4 linked regions of the Homo sapiens genome follow. The protein of the gene in region 1 purifies or fractionates together with the protein of each later gene. This does not show direct contact. Each region holds a gene or a part of one and is shown on either strand. Other genes may lie near its edges.

Region 1 (3,500 bases):
GCCATCTCACTGCATCCCAACTCACCTCTCATTTCAGTTGTTTTCTCCCACTCCTATGTCCTCCCAGGTATATCAATTTTTCAGCTGCCTCCCAGAGGACAAGGTCCCCTACGTCAACAGTCCTGGGGAGAAATACAGGATCAAGCAGCTGCTGCACCAGCTGCCCCCACACGACAGTGAGGTGAGGAGAGAGAAGACAGGAAGGGCATGCCAGGCACAGCACACAGCCTGGGCCAATGCAGGGCAGGGTCAGAGGAGGAAAGGTGAGCTGATCTGAGGTGAGTGGTCCAGACAGGCAGGGGTCATCAGGGGACATTCCTTGGCAAAACCACAGCTGGGCCTTGGAAGAAGAGGTGGTTACTTCAGGCAGGAGGCACCATCTATAGAAAGACCTAGAAGTAAACTTTCGGGGCATGGATGAAGTCTGGAAGAGGGGCAGGGACAGGCATCAAGGGAGGAGCCTGGGAGATGCCTTCTCCTCCCAGGCACAGTACTGCACAGCACTGGAAGAGGAGGAAAAGAAAGAGCTCCGAGCCTTTAGCCAGCAGCGGAAGCGGGAGAATCTGGGGCGTGGCATCGTGCGCATCTTCCCGGTGACCATCACTGGGGCCATCTGTGAGGAGGTGAGCCGTGGAGGGCCTCAGCGAGTGAGCAGTGCCTCTGCTCCAAGCCCTGGGGAGCAGGACACATCTTCCAAGCACTGGGAAGATGAGGCCTGCCACTTAAGCCCCAGTGAGGTGTCTCTAGGGTCCCCTCTTGTGGGCGGGGTCTGTTCCTCACATCTCACTGTTGGGCAGGGACTGTCTCTAAGGCAACCCCTGGTGGACAGGGACCTGTCCCATCAATCCCACTGTCGTGTGGGGTTTGTCTGTAAGGAGGCCTTAGTGTGTTTTTCTCCCCGTCTGTGCAGTGGACATGGGGCATGGGCTATCTCTTTGGTCCTCCTGTGGTCAGAACTTGTCCTCAAGAGCTGACCCACAGTGGCAGGGCCTGTCTGCAGGGCCCAGTGGTAAGCAGGGCCTGTCCTTAGATCCTACTGTTAGGTGAGATCTATTGCTAAGGTCCCGGTGGGTGGAGACTATCTCTGTGGTTTCCCCCACTAGGCCTGGCCTGTCTGTCTTCCCCACCCCTGATGAGGGAGGCTTGCCTATAAGGCCACCCACCATGGGTAGGGCCTGTCTCTACGGCTTCCCTCATGAGCAGGGTCAGTCTCTAAGGTACCGCCCAACCCCATCCCTGGTATAGGCAGGGCCTGTGTCAAAGTTACCCCATGGGTGGGGCTGATCACAAAGTTTCACTGTGGGAAAGGCCCAAGTGTAACATACTTTGGCTGACCCCATCCATCTGACCATCTTGGTGACAGTGATGGTAACCATCTTGGTGCTTGTCTCATGGCAGTGCGGAAAGCAGATTGGAGGTGGGGACATCGCAGTGTTTGCCAGCCGTGCAGGCCTGGGTGCCTGCTGGCACCCACAGTGCTTCGTGTGTACCACGTGCCAGGAACTGCTGGTTGACCTCATCTACTTCTACCATGTTGGCAAGGTCTACTGCGGGCGTCACCATGCCGAATGCCTGCGTCCACGCTGCCAAGCCTGTGACGAGGTTTGGGCCTCCCTGCCCAGGGGTGGGAGTTGAGGGTGGGCAGGGCCAGGAGCAGGCTCATCTGACAGCCACAGATGGCCTGCGCCCTCCAGATCATCTTCTCCCCTGAGTGCACGGAGGCTGAGGGCCGCCACTGGCACATGGATCACTTCTGCTGCTTTGAGTGTGAAGCTTCACTAGGAGGGCAGCGCTATGTCATGCGTCAGAGCCGCCCCCACTGCTGCGCCTGCTACGAGGCCCGCCACGCGGAGTACTGTGATGGCTGTGGGGAGCACATCGGTGGGTGAATGCTGTGGGACTGGACAGAGGGATGGATGGACAGCTGGGCCACAGTCCTACCCCACCAGGACTCCTCCTGTCCTCCAGGCCCCATCCTCCATTGTGCCCTGTACTTTGTCCAGCCCCAACACTATAGACCTGTACGCTTGGTTGCAAGTCCCACTCCCAATGTCCCCACTATGCCATGCTTTCTAAACCCCACCTAACACAATGCTAGGCCACCACCACATGTCTACACCCACCTCCAGAGGGTGCTCTAATTCCAGCCCCAGGGCTCGCCCTACTCCTAGCCTCTACCACCCCAAGCTGTGCCCCGTTCTCCTCCACTCTCCTGTATCAGCCTAAGTCAGGCCTAGCTTCTAGCTACACCCTATCCTCTGAGAACCACTCCTTTCTCAACAGGGCCACTCCCCACCTGCTAAGCCCTGCCCCCACCAGCCAGGCCTCCTCTTCAGGCCCAGCTTTCCATTCTCCTTCCACTTGGAGCCACCCCCTAATGTCTAAGCCTGGCCCGAATCTTAGAGTCCAATGCCCACCCCGCTCTGGGAGAGAGCACCCTGGGAAAGAAAGGGAGGAGTGAGAGAGAGGTTCACCAGCCAGTCTCCAGGAGAGAACCAAAACCTGTTTCCTGCTTTCTCCAAAAGGGCCCCATTCTGGAGGAGGGAGGAAGGCACCCAGGGGTGCCCTGCCTCGGATTCCCCACCTCTTCTTGAGAAGGGACTCGTTCACGAGGGGTGGGGTTACGCCTGGGGGTTCTGCCTCAGTTTTTCCCCCTCGTCGTTCCCCACAGGCCTGGACCAAGGCCAGATGGCTTACGAGGGCCAGCACTGGCATGCCTCAGACCGCTGCTTCTGCTGTAGTCGCTGTGGGCGGGCCCTGCTGGGCCGCCCATTCCTGCCACGCCGAGGCCTAATCTTCTGCTCTCGAGCCTGCAGCCTTGGGTCCGAGCCCACAGCTCCAGGGCCGAGCCGCCGCAGCTGGAGTGCCGGCCCTGTCACAGCCCCACTTGCAGCCTCCACAGCCTCTTTCTCTGCTGTGAAGGGGGCATCAGAGACCACCACCAAAGGCACCAGCACAGAGTTAGCGCCAGGTGAGCTAACCCTCTAGCCACACCCAGCCACAGCCCAGTCACCCCTATGTCCTTGCCCCTGCCTCAGCCCTGGCCCTTCCTTCTTGACTAGCCCAGGCCCTTCACCTGCTGTATCCCTGGGCCCCGCCCATTTCTCAGCTCATCCTCCTTCCCCACACCAGTCCAGGCCTGGTTTCCATCCCAAACTACACCCGCCTCATGAACCCTGGTTCCACCCTGTCAATACAGGGCTGGTCCCCTACCTCAACTTGTCTCTGCTTGACCCCAAGTTCCTCTTCCTCTTCTCCAGCCGGTCACCCTTCATCCTCTGCAGTCAGGCCCCACCCCTTTTATTGCAAACCAAATCTACTCCAGCCTATGCCACACCTCTTCCATCCGAAGCCACCCCGGGTGCCCTGGCCACGCCCCCCACACCAGTCCCATCTTGCTCCGTGTTCTTCCTTCCAACCCTCTCAACACCCAGAGCCTGCTCCAGGCCTCACACTTCCCAGACTTCCCACCTCCCTGCCATTCTCCGACCCCTGCCCCC
Region 2 (3,500 bases), on another chromosome or scaffold:
GGAGTTTGAGGCAGCAGTGAGCCATGATTGCACCATGCACTCCAGCCCAGGCCAAAAAGCAAGACCTCATCTGAAAAAAAAAAAAAAAAAAAAGGAACAGAAAACACGAGAAGACACTAAAATGAGAGACTAAGGGTGAAGGAGAGCTTCTGCTGTTACTGTAGTTTATTTTGCTTTCAAGATGGGCGGCCCCGGAATGGTGAGCCATGTCAGTGGAAGACACTGCAATGGTGGGAATCGTCTATATCTGCACTGTTCAATCCAGTAACCACTAACCACATGTGGCTAGTGAGCACTTGATATGAGAAACTGAATTTTAAGTTTTATTAGCTGAAATTTAAATTGCCATATATAGCTAGCAGCTACAAAACCAGGCAGGGCAGCCCCTCCAGCATGTCTGTAGACTGACGGACCCAGCTGTCCAAAATTTAGATGGGATGGTGGGAAGAGTGGAAGCTGACGGCTTCTATTTGTTCAATGCTTTCTAAATGAGGTTATATGCTGAGGGAAGGACGGGGTGGGGGAAGTGGGGGACAGGACACTAGGTGAAGTTCAAGGAGAAGTGAAAAGGAAGAAATGACTTCAGAGAGTGGAGAACATATTAAAGGAGGCAGTAACACTTCCGGGTCGAGTGTCATTTGAGATTTGTGGCAAATTTTAAAGTAACCCTGGTCAGAACTGCTGGCTTTTCTCTGGCAAACATCAACCACTTGGCCCTTCAAAGGTGGCCTCAAACTACTCTTTCAACCATCTCCTGACACTCCCTTTATGTTCCTCTGTGGTTTTCAATTTTCTTGGCTGCAGGATCTTTTTTACCCCCTTTACGTATTATATTCAGTACCCCAGTTAAAAAAAAAAAAAAAAAAAAAAAAAAAAAAAAAAAAGGACAGAGAGATGACAATGAGGACAAAAACAAGGCTGTTCTGGAGGAAACTGAGGTAGGCCTAAATTCCCCCACCAGCTTGGCCCCCTCCCACCAGCCCCTGAGGCACATCTAAGGAATCTCAGGGCTTGAAACCAAAGATTTACCCTGATGGGTGTTTCTCAGACTTAAATATGCTGACGATCAACATGTCTTGTTAAAATGTACATTCTGCTCCAGCAGGTCTGCAGAGGCCCAAGCTCTGCATTTCTAACATGTTACTGGGTTCTGCCACTGTGGCCACACCCAAAGCCAACTACTCACATTCTCCGCTCTGCTTGGTTTTGCCCGCTGTCGGACCCTCAGCTGCATATGCCTTTCCCCATTGTATTAGTCTGTTCTCACGCTGCTGTGAAGAAATACCCAAGACTGGGTAATTTATAAAGGAAAGAGGTTTAACTGACTCAGTTCTGCAGGGCTGGGGAGACCTCAAGAAACTTACGATCATGGCAGAAGGGGAAGCAAACACATCCTTCTTCACATGGCAGCAGCAAGCAGAAGAATGAACACCCAGCAAAAGGAGAAGCTCCTTATTTAAAATCATTAGGTCTCGTGAGAACTAACTATCACGAGAATACGATGGGGAAAACTGCCCCCATGATTCAATTATCTCCAGCTGATCCACCCACAACACCTGGGGATTATGGGTACAATTCAAGATTAGATTTGAGTGGGGACACAGCCAAACCATATCACCCATCTTCTGCAGCTGGGAGATTCTATCTAATCCTCAAGGTCCTCCTCATTGTTACCTCCTCTCAAGGATTCTCCAAGTCCCCCAGGCAGAAGTAATCATGATCCAGTCCTGGTTAGCACCTTGGCAGATCTCCTACCACTATATCCCCCTCTTGCTGTGCTCCAGCCATGCCAGCTTTCCTGCAGTTGCCATAACAAGCCAAGCAAACACCAGCCTCACGGCCTTTGCACCAGCTGACCCCTCCGCCTGAAATGCTCTTCTCCCAAACTGCCTCATGTCTAAGCCCTTCACCGACGTCATGCCTTTGCTCAATGTTCTGCACGGTCTATTTAATACCTTCCACCCCTAGCATTCTGGACACTGTAGTTATTTACACATATATTTATTTTACGTCTGTGTCCCCTGTAGTTATGCACAATTTGAGAGCAAGGTCCACAATATATTCATTTTGCATCTGAAGCATCTTGCAGTGTCTCCATATTTAAAGACAAGGTGAAATATCAAGTCAATAGCTGACATAACTTGCAACTAATGGATGTGAATTAGATTTCTGACACTTCAAAGAACCTAATCGCTAGTGGAAGTGTGAAAAATACAAGAAAGAACATAACAAAATAGATACAGAAAGCAAAGCAAGGGCACAAGGGTAATTCTAAAATGATAATTCATAACTCAAAAATACACAAGGATGCCAAGAACAACGATGATGTTCTACTACAAAACAGGATAAAGTAACCATTGATTTAGCATACAATCTGATAATTTGCTACCTCTTAGCATTTAAGATATTAAAAAAAAAAATAGGATAGGCATGGTGGCTCAAGGCTCTATTTCCAGCACTTTGGGAGGCTGAGGTGAGAGGATTGCTTGAGGTCAGAAGTTTGAGACCAGCCTGGCCAATACAGCAAGACCCTGTCTCTATTTTAAAGGATAGTAATAATGACAGCTAGCACATTAAGAACTTACCATGTGCCAGCAACTATTTAGGCATCTTACAAGTATGAATTGATTTAATCCATATAACAAACTTCCAAAGTAGGTACCATTATTACCTCCTTTTATAATCAAGGAACTGAGAGGCAAAATAACTTGTTCAAGGTCACATAGCCAACCGAACAAGGACTCCAGAGCTCTTAATCACTGTGCCCAGGTAGCTGAAAAACTATAAAGATTTAGAATTGTGAGGCTTAGCTTTAGGTAAGTTACTGTTTTAAAACTCCCTACAACATTTTTCTTAAATAAATTATGTACTGGTTCTCTCCCTACATGCTCTGAACATTAACAATGATTTTCTTTCTATGAAGGGAAAAACTGGTTTTCAAGTAGTTTTCTCCCATGTTAACAGCTAATACTCTGTCCATCCAAGAAGAACAGCTCTTAAGACTAAGAAAATAAAAGAACTCAAAGAAATGAATGATTCCTGAGCTTGGCCCAGGCAGCACAGCTCAGTGGTTAACGGTACCGTTGTGAATCCCAAGTACTAGGCACTGTGACCCAGGCGGGTAATCAATTCAGCCTATGCGTGTTCCCCCCCAAGAATTCTTCCTGGCTGCTGCGTGCTCTCCCCACTTTCTCACCCCACACTATCCCCATCTTATTCTTGCAAGGGTTCTTGATGGGGTTCCATGAACTCCCAAGTGGTCCATGGATAGAATTAAAAGGATCCTTGAACTTGCTAGGACATATCCTCTGTATTTTCATTTATTCCTTTAAAAGCCTCATTCTGAGGAGTCTATGGCCTTCACTGGACTGCCATAGGAGTTCCTAGTACAAAAAAGAAAAGAAATGAGGATAAAGGCAGACACAGGGAAATAAGCTAGGGGGGTTTAATATCAGTCTAGGAAAGAGGGAAACAAATCTGGTTAGGAGTGACAGAAGTGA
Region 3 (3,500 bases), on another chromosome or scaffold:
GAGTTAGAAAATAAAAAGTAGATTTGCCAAGCTACCATGGGGTTTGAAGCTTAAGAGATGGCCATGCCTGTGTCAGCCCAGACACATTTTGGGTTATGGGAGATTTAGAGCCTTTGGGCCAGTCAGAAGAAAAGCTTTGCCTACGCCTTTAAAAGGCACTTGAGTAGTAGGGCTTTTGGTACACACTGGGTTCACGTGCTTTGTGTAAGTGTGTTTGCTTTTGGTAGAAGGCTTGAAAGTGGCTTTAATTGTTGTACAAATATCTGTCCTGTGGATGAAGGGGAAGTAGAAGGAATGCCAAACACACATACGAAACACAAGTAAAAGCTGTTTTACTCTGTAAGTAAAAAAAAAAAAAGTTTCCTGCAGTTATTCGAGATGATAGGGAAAGTTCACCAAAGCAGCTATTAACTTGAATAGGGCGATAAGTCAAAGCCCAGAACTGTTTGCATCTGCACTTAGCAAAGTTACATTTTACTTACCTAAGCACGTTTTAAAGACTAAATGTTAGATTCAAAGTATTACAGTCTTTGTGGAAGGTAATTGGGTAACATACATCAGCAGGTTCAAAAATGTGCAGTCTTTGAGCTCAGATTTCCATTTCTAGGAATTTATCCTAAGGAATAACTGAGAGTGAATGCAGTTCCTTCAGGGCAATATTTGTAGGCCTGAAAACTGCATGTCCTGGACATCTAAAATATCCTAGATTTTAAAAATATATACCATGTAGAAACAATTCAGTAATAACATGTAAATATGTCAGTTGGCATGAAAAATGCCAAGGCTAGGTAGAAAAAGTGTTTACAAAGATAGAATTCAGAATGTTGATAGTTGTGTGATTGTGGGTGACTTCATTTTTCTGCTAGTTCTACTATGAATATATATACTGTCTATCTTTTCTTAATTAAGCAGATGGAACCAGAAGACTTTGTATACAACTTTTAGAAAAACCCTTCCTGGGCTGGGTGCAGTGGTGCACACCTGTAATCCCAGTACCTTGGGAGGCTGAGATGGGCAGATCACTTGGGCTCAGGAGTTCAAGACCAGCCTGGCCAACATGGCAAAACCCTTTTTCTACAAAAAATACAAAAATCAGCTGGGCTTGGTGTTGTGAGCCTGTAGTCCCTACTGAGCAGTAGGAGGGGAGCGGCTGAGGTGGGAGGATTGTTTGAGCCTGGGAGGTTGAAGTTGCAGTGAGCCAAGATCACGCCATTGCACTCCAGCCTGGGCACAGAGCAAGATCCTGTCTCAAAAAAAAACCTTACTGATTTTTAATTTTGGAATTCCCTATCGTGTGATCTGCTTCCTAAATGTACTTTCTCTTGTCCAATACTTCATTCTTGAATTAATTAACCTTTGTGTTTTGTTTCTAGGGACCTTACCAGGACACATTAGAATTTTTGTTGGGTAGTAGAGATGAATGTAAGAACTTCTGGAAGATTTGTGTGGAGTATCACACCTTTTTTAGACTTTTGGACCAACCTAAGCCAAAAGCAAAAGCCGTCTTCTTCAGCCGGGGCTCCTCCTTCAGATACAGGTAGGGGCCATGCCGTGGCTTGCATGGGCCCCTCACTGGTTTGTAAAGCTGAGAAAATAGGTAATTCCTAGTCAAGAAAGAAGTGTTATAAAATATTTCAGAGAATTACACACAAAGTGGAGGTATTGTGAAAGAATAACTAGAGGAAGCATATGAAATAAAATAACGGAAAAAATACGCTTAATAAAAACTTTGCTTACAAATTCAGTTACGCTTACTACAAAGTATAACTTTAAAATATGTATGTGGGCCGAGCCCGGTGGCTCACACCTGTAATCCCAGCACTTTGGAAGGCCAAGGCGGGTGGATCATTTGAGGTCAGGAATTCGATATCAGCCTGGCCAACATGGTGAAACCCCATCTCTACTAAAAATACAAAAATTAGCTGGGCGTGTTAGCGGGCACCTGTAATCCCAGCTACTCGGGAGGCTGAGGCATGAGAATCGCTTAAACCCATGAGGCAGAGATCACGCCACTGCACTCCACCCTGGGCAATAGAGCGAGACTCAGTCTCAAAAAATAAAATATATGTGTGTATATTTATGAGAGAGGATGGGTAAATCTTTTCTTTTGTCTTTTACTCTGAAAAATTAATGCTGACTTACTGTTCTTTATTAAAAATCTGAATCTTTATTCACAGTGGAAGAACTCAGAAACAACTAGTAGATTATTTCAAAGACAGTGGAATGAAGAGAATTCCATATGAAAGGTAAGCTCTGGCCTTTATGATGTAAAGTGTGTGCTTTTAAAATTAAAATTTAAATATATATATGGAGAGAGAGCGAAAAGAGAGACTGAGTCTTGCTCCGTCACCTAAGCTGGAATACAGTGGCATGATCACGGCTCACTGCAGCTTCAGACTCCTGGGCTCAAGCAATCCTCCCACCTCAGCCTCCCGAGTAGCTGGGAATATAGGCGCACACCACTATCCCCTGGCTAGTTTTTTTTGTTTTTTTTTTTTTTCTGTAGAGACAAGGTCTTGCTATGTTGCCCAGGCTGGTCTCAAACATGTGGGCTCAAGTAATCCTCCAACCTCAGCCTCCCAAAGTGCTGCGATTATAGGTGTGAGCCACCATGCCCAGCCTATTTTAAATATTAATCTTTACTTGACTGAAAGTCACTTCAAATACATGAATGTGTATTTTTACAGGAGTTCAGTTTCAATGTTTTAAAGAAAGTGGATTTGTAATTTTTTTTTTTTTTTTTTTGAGACGGAGTCTCGCTCTGTCGCCCAAGCTGGAGTGCAGTGGTGCGATCTCGGCTCACTGCAAGCTCCGCCTCCCGGGTTCACACCATTCTTCTGCCTCAGCCTCCCGAGTAGCTGGGACTGCAGGCGCCTGCCACCACGCCTGGCAAATCTTTTGTATTTTTAGTAGAGATGGGGTTTCACTGTGTTAGCCAGGGTGGTCTCGACCTCCTGACCTCATGATCCACCCGCCTCGGCCTCCCAAAGTGCTGGGATTACAGGTGTGAGCCACTGCCCCCGGCCTGTAATATTTTTATATAGACATTGTATACACATAGAGATATTTTTAGTTTCTCTTCTGTATAGCTTAGCTTATATATATTTTTACATAGTATAGTAAATTTTTTTTTTTTTTTTTTTTTTGAGATGGAGTCTTGCTCTGTCGTCCAGGCTGGAGTGCAGTAGTGTGATCTCGGCTCACTGCAAGCTCCACCTCCTGGGTTCACGCCATTCTCTTGCCTCAGCCTCCCAAGTAGCTGGGACTACAGGCACCCACCACCACACCCAGCTAATTTTTTGTATTTTTAATAGAGACGGGGTTTCATAATGTTAGCCAGGATGGTCTTGATCTGACCTCGTGATCCACCCGCCTCGGCCTCCCAAAGTGCTGGGATTACAGGTGTGAGCCACTGCGCCCGGCCTATAGTAAACATTTAATCTGAAAATTCTTGTTGTTTCTCCGCACGTGGAATTTTTTCCTTTAGTGTGGGTGTGTAA
Region 4 (3,500 bases), on another chromosome or scaffold:
TAGACATAACACCAAATGCATTACTTATTAAAAAATTGATAAATTGGACTTTACCAAAATGAAAACTTACGCTCTGTGAAAGACCCTGTTAAAAGGATGGTTGCATTTAATTTTGGTCACTTTGTAATGGTAGAGAGGTAAGGTAACAAATTGTCTTTGAATCACTTTGTAGGCTATTATAAACAGCTGGGCACTTGTTGATTTTTAATTGTCTTCTTTACAGTCCTTTCCCAGTGGCATTACGTCTTTTTTTTTTTTTTGAGACGGCGTCTCGCTCTGTCTCCCAGGCTGGAGTGCAGTGGCGCGACCTCAGCTCACTGCAACCTCCGCCTCCTGGGTTCATGCCATTCTCCTGCCTCAGCCTCCCGAGTAGCTGGGACTACAGGCACCCACTGCCACGCCCGGCTAATTTTTTGTATTTTTTAGTAGAGACAGGGTTTCACTGTGTTAGCCAGTATGGTCTCGATCTCCTGACCTCGTGATCCGCCCGCCGCGGCCTCCCAAAATGCTGGGATTACAGGCGTAAGCCACTGCGCCCAGCTTTTTTTTTTTTTTTTTTGAGACGGAGTCTCTGTCGCCCAGGCTGGAGTGCAGTGGCGCGATCTCGGGTCACTGCAACCTCCGCCTCCCAGGTTCACACCATTCTCCTGCCTCAGCCTCCCGAGTAGCTGGGACTACAGGCACCTGCCACCACACCCAGCTAATTTTTTTGTATTTTTAGTAGAGAAGGGGTTTCACTGTGTTAGCCAGGATGGTCTCGATCTCCTGACCTCGTGATCTGCCCACCTTGGCCTCCCAAAGTGCTGGGATTACAGGCGTGAGCCACCGTGCCCAGCTGTCATTATTTTTTTTTTTTTGAAAAATAGCTGTTAGAACTGTATAGGGTATTCCAAATCTGGATATTCCTTCATTTTGTTCTGTTCTCTACAGTTATAAGCATATTGTTGGCCTTGCCTATAGCTACTTAATGATTTATTCTCTTACATCCATAACTGGCAATAATTAGGAAAAAAAATTGCTGTGAAGTCGAACCCACTATCCTGTAAACATAAATTTGGCCTCCCTAGGTTTTTAGTAATAAATGCAAAATAAAATCTGTACAGCACATTTTAAAGTTTGCCATTAGTTTACAAAGCACTAATAAGTACAGGGTATGTCAGTAGGTGGTCCTAAAATAAATTCATCAGTAAATCGCCAGGTGCAGTGGCTCACACCTGTAATCCTAGCATTTTGGGAGGCTTGGGCAGGTGGATCACCTGAGATCAGGAGTTCGAGATCAGCCTGACCAACATGGTGAAACCCCGTCTCTACTAAAAAATACAAAAAAATTAGCCAGGCATGGTTGCAGGCGCCTGTAGTCCCAGCTACTCGGGAGGCTGAGGCAGGAGAATGGCGTGAACCCGGGAAGTGGAGCTTGCAGTGAGCCGAGATTGCGCCACTGCAGTCCGCAGTCCGGCCTGGGCGACAGAGCGAGACTCCGTCTCAAAAAAAAAAAAAAAAAGAAACTATCTCAAAAAAATAAAAATAAATTCATCAATGAATCAATGTGAACTTTCTAATCTTTAATGGCAGTGTGTGAAAAATGAGAGGTGCTCATTGTATGTTTCTGGACATCTTGCTGTGTATTTAAGGAAAGACTAAGATAGTGCATGTTCAGGAAGTCTTTTAAACTCTGCAAAGAATCAGAAACACATTTATGTAGGGTCTTCAGATTTTACTTTTGAGACCTAGCCTTCTTATCACCTCCTATTTTCGCTAAATTTTAAAATACTTACTGTCAGCAGACAGGAATGTCAGTGATTCTGACTTGTATGTTTTTCAATTCTGATTTGGCATTTGTTTTGCAGTACCATCTGTCCTGTTGGCTTCTGGGTAAAGAGACGGTATTACATGAAAAAAAACAAAGCTCCTATTATCCTCTAGAAATTGGAGAGCAGCTGCCTTCACTGAACAGTAGTGCTATGATCCCTGGGACTGTTGAGATAGAAATTAAAGGTATTGCAAATAAGAGCAGTTTTACAGAAATAGCCCCCTGCCCCACCACTTGTCATTTTGTTGAAAAAAAAAAAAAAAACTGTTTTGACCACATTCCCTAATTTCAGAGGAATGAAGAGTTACATTTTCTAGCATATTCATAATGTAGGTATTAGAGGAAGGAGGAATGATGAAACAGTGTAAGGCTTTATATTAAAAATAAAAAGTTGTGGTCCAATGGGGAGTTTTCAACCTATAAGATCTATTAATATTGGGAGGTCTTTACCACCTGGAAAGTAATTATCGAACACATGCTTCTTTTGCCTTAGGGGTGTTTTTAAGAATTTCTTAGGCTTTCAGAAAGCTAATGGTGATTGATGGGATAAGGGAGACTAAGGAAAAGGAAAGAGTCATGATGATCATTATGATAAAGCATGATTCACAGGATTTATGCCTTTTTGGCCAGGTGGTATCATCTTCTGAGACGGTGAGAATTAGGAGAGGAATTTGTTAGGGGAGTAAGTAGGAAAATGAGTTTCATTTTGGACATGCCAAATTTGTAGTCAGTTGGAAAAAAAGGTTGAGTACCTAAATCTGGGGTCATGATCATTATTTTGGCATCATCAGTGTATTGATCTCTGGTTCTTAGCTGTTTAAGGATGAGAATCTCAATACCTGCTTTCCCAGGAGAACATGCATATGCCTAAATAGTTGCATAATTTCTAGAGATTGCTGGATTCCCTGAAACCCAGAAGTCACTCCAGAATTAACTTCTTCACCTGTCCCAGTGTGAGTCAAGAAAATGTAGCAAAAGCCAGGCACGGTGATTCACGCCTGTAATCCCAGCACTTTGGGAGACTGAGGCAGGTGGATCATCTGAGGTCAGGAGTCTGAGACCAGCCTAACATGGTGAAACCCCGTTTCTACTAAAAATAAAAAAAAATTAGCCAGGTGTGGTGGCGCACACCTGTAATCCCAGCTACTTGGGAGGCTGAGGCAGGAGAATTGCTTGAACCCGGGAGGCAGAGGTTGCAGTGAGCTGAGATCGCACCCTTGCACTCCAGCTTGGGCAACAAGAGTGAAACTCCGTCTCAAAAAAAATTTTTTTTTAAGTCATTTAAAATCATTTTGGAATGGTAAAGATTGTAGCAATAAGGTATTAAAACTCATGTGAGCTATTATGTGTGGGAATTGTTTCTGAAGAGCTACAATTTTTTACCCAGAGTATGCCAGTAATCTCCTAGAAGGTGTACTTTGTTCACAGAAAGGGCATTGTGTAGCAGGCCTGGGATGCAAAGCTAGGTTATCTGGAGATCCAAACAAACTACAAAGTAAGGTGATTGTGGGTCTGGACACAGGCAAAGTGGAATAGACAGATTCGAAGTGGCCTGCGATATTGCCGTGATTGTCACAGGCCACAATGTGGGTGACAGGTCAGGTCTGACAGATCTTGAGTGGTACTGTAATAGGAAAGTGAATGCACCAGCTGCTGCAAATGATGGGCTGAGTCTGAGGCAAGCACCATG

Evidence for each region. The genes of interacting proteins can lie anywhere in the genome.
Region 2: the proteins of PRICKLE3 (region 1) and PIP4K2A purify together in Homo sapiens (affinity purification with mass spectrometry; 2 studies listed by BioGRID and IntAct, with this or other methods). This does not show direct contact.
Region 3: the proteins of PRICKLE3 (region 1) and FARP2 purify together in Homo sapiens (affinity purification with mass spectrometry; 2 studies listed by BioGRID and IntAct, with this or other methods). This does not show direct contact.
Region 4: the proteins of PRICKLE3 (region 1) and ARMC8 purify together in Homo sapiens (affinity purification with mass spectrometry; 2 studies listed by BioGRID and IntAct, with this or other methods). This does not show direct contact.

What each region holds. Positions count from the first base shown.
Region 1 is NC_000023.11:49,176,374-49,179,873, reverse strand, and holds part of PRICKLE3 (prickle planar cell polarity protein 3), read left to right. Parts: intron 1-67; coding exon 68-181; intron 182-485; coding exon 486-623; intron 624-1,398; coding exon 1,399-1,602; intron 1,603-1,694; coding exon 1,695-1,881; intron 1,882-2,671; coding exon 2,672-2,971; intron 2,972-3,500. UniProt on the Homo sapiens protein: Involved in the planar cell polarity (PCP) pathway that is essential for the polarization of epithelial cells during morphogenetic processes, including gastrulation and neurulation.
Region 2 is NC_000010.11:22,704,579-22,708,078, forward strand, and holds part of PIP4K2A (phosphatidylinositol 5-phosphate 4-kinase type-2 alpha), read right to left. Parts: intron 848-3,500; exon of another isoform or gene 1-847. UniProt on the Homo sapiens protein: Catalyzes the phosphorylation of phosphatidylinositol 5-phosphate (PtdIns5P) on the fourth hydroxyl of the myo-inositol ring, to form phosphatidylinositol 4,5-bisphosphate (PtdIns(4,5)P2). Has both ATP- and GTP-dependent kinase activities.
Region 3 is NC_000002.12:241,432,785-241,436,284, forward strand, and holds part of FARP2 (FERM, ARHGEF and pleckstrin domain-containing protein 2), read left to right. Parts: intron 1-1,373; coding exon 1,374-1,537; intron 1,538-2,177; coding exon 2,178-2,246; intron 2,247-3,500. UniProt on the Homo sapiens protein: Functions as a guanine nucleotide exchange factor that activates RAC1. May have relatively low activity. Plays a role in the response to class 3 semaphorins and remodeling of the actin cytoskeleton.
Region 4 is NC_000003.12:138,193,801-138,197,300, forward strand, and holds part of ARMC8 (armadillo repeat-containing protein 8), read left to right. Parts: intron 1-3,500. UniProt on the Homo sapiens protein: Component of the CTLH E3 ubiquitin-protein ligase complex that selectively accepts ubiquitin from UBE2H and mediates ubiquitination and subsequent proteasomal degradation of the transcription factor HBP1.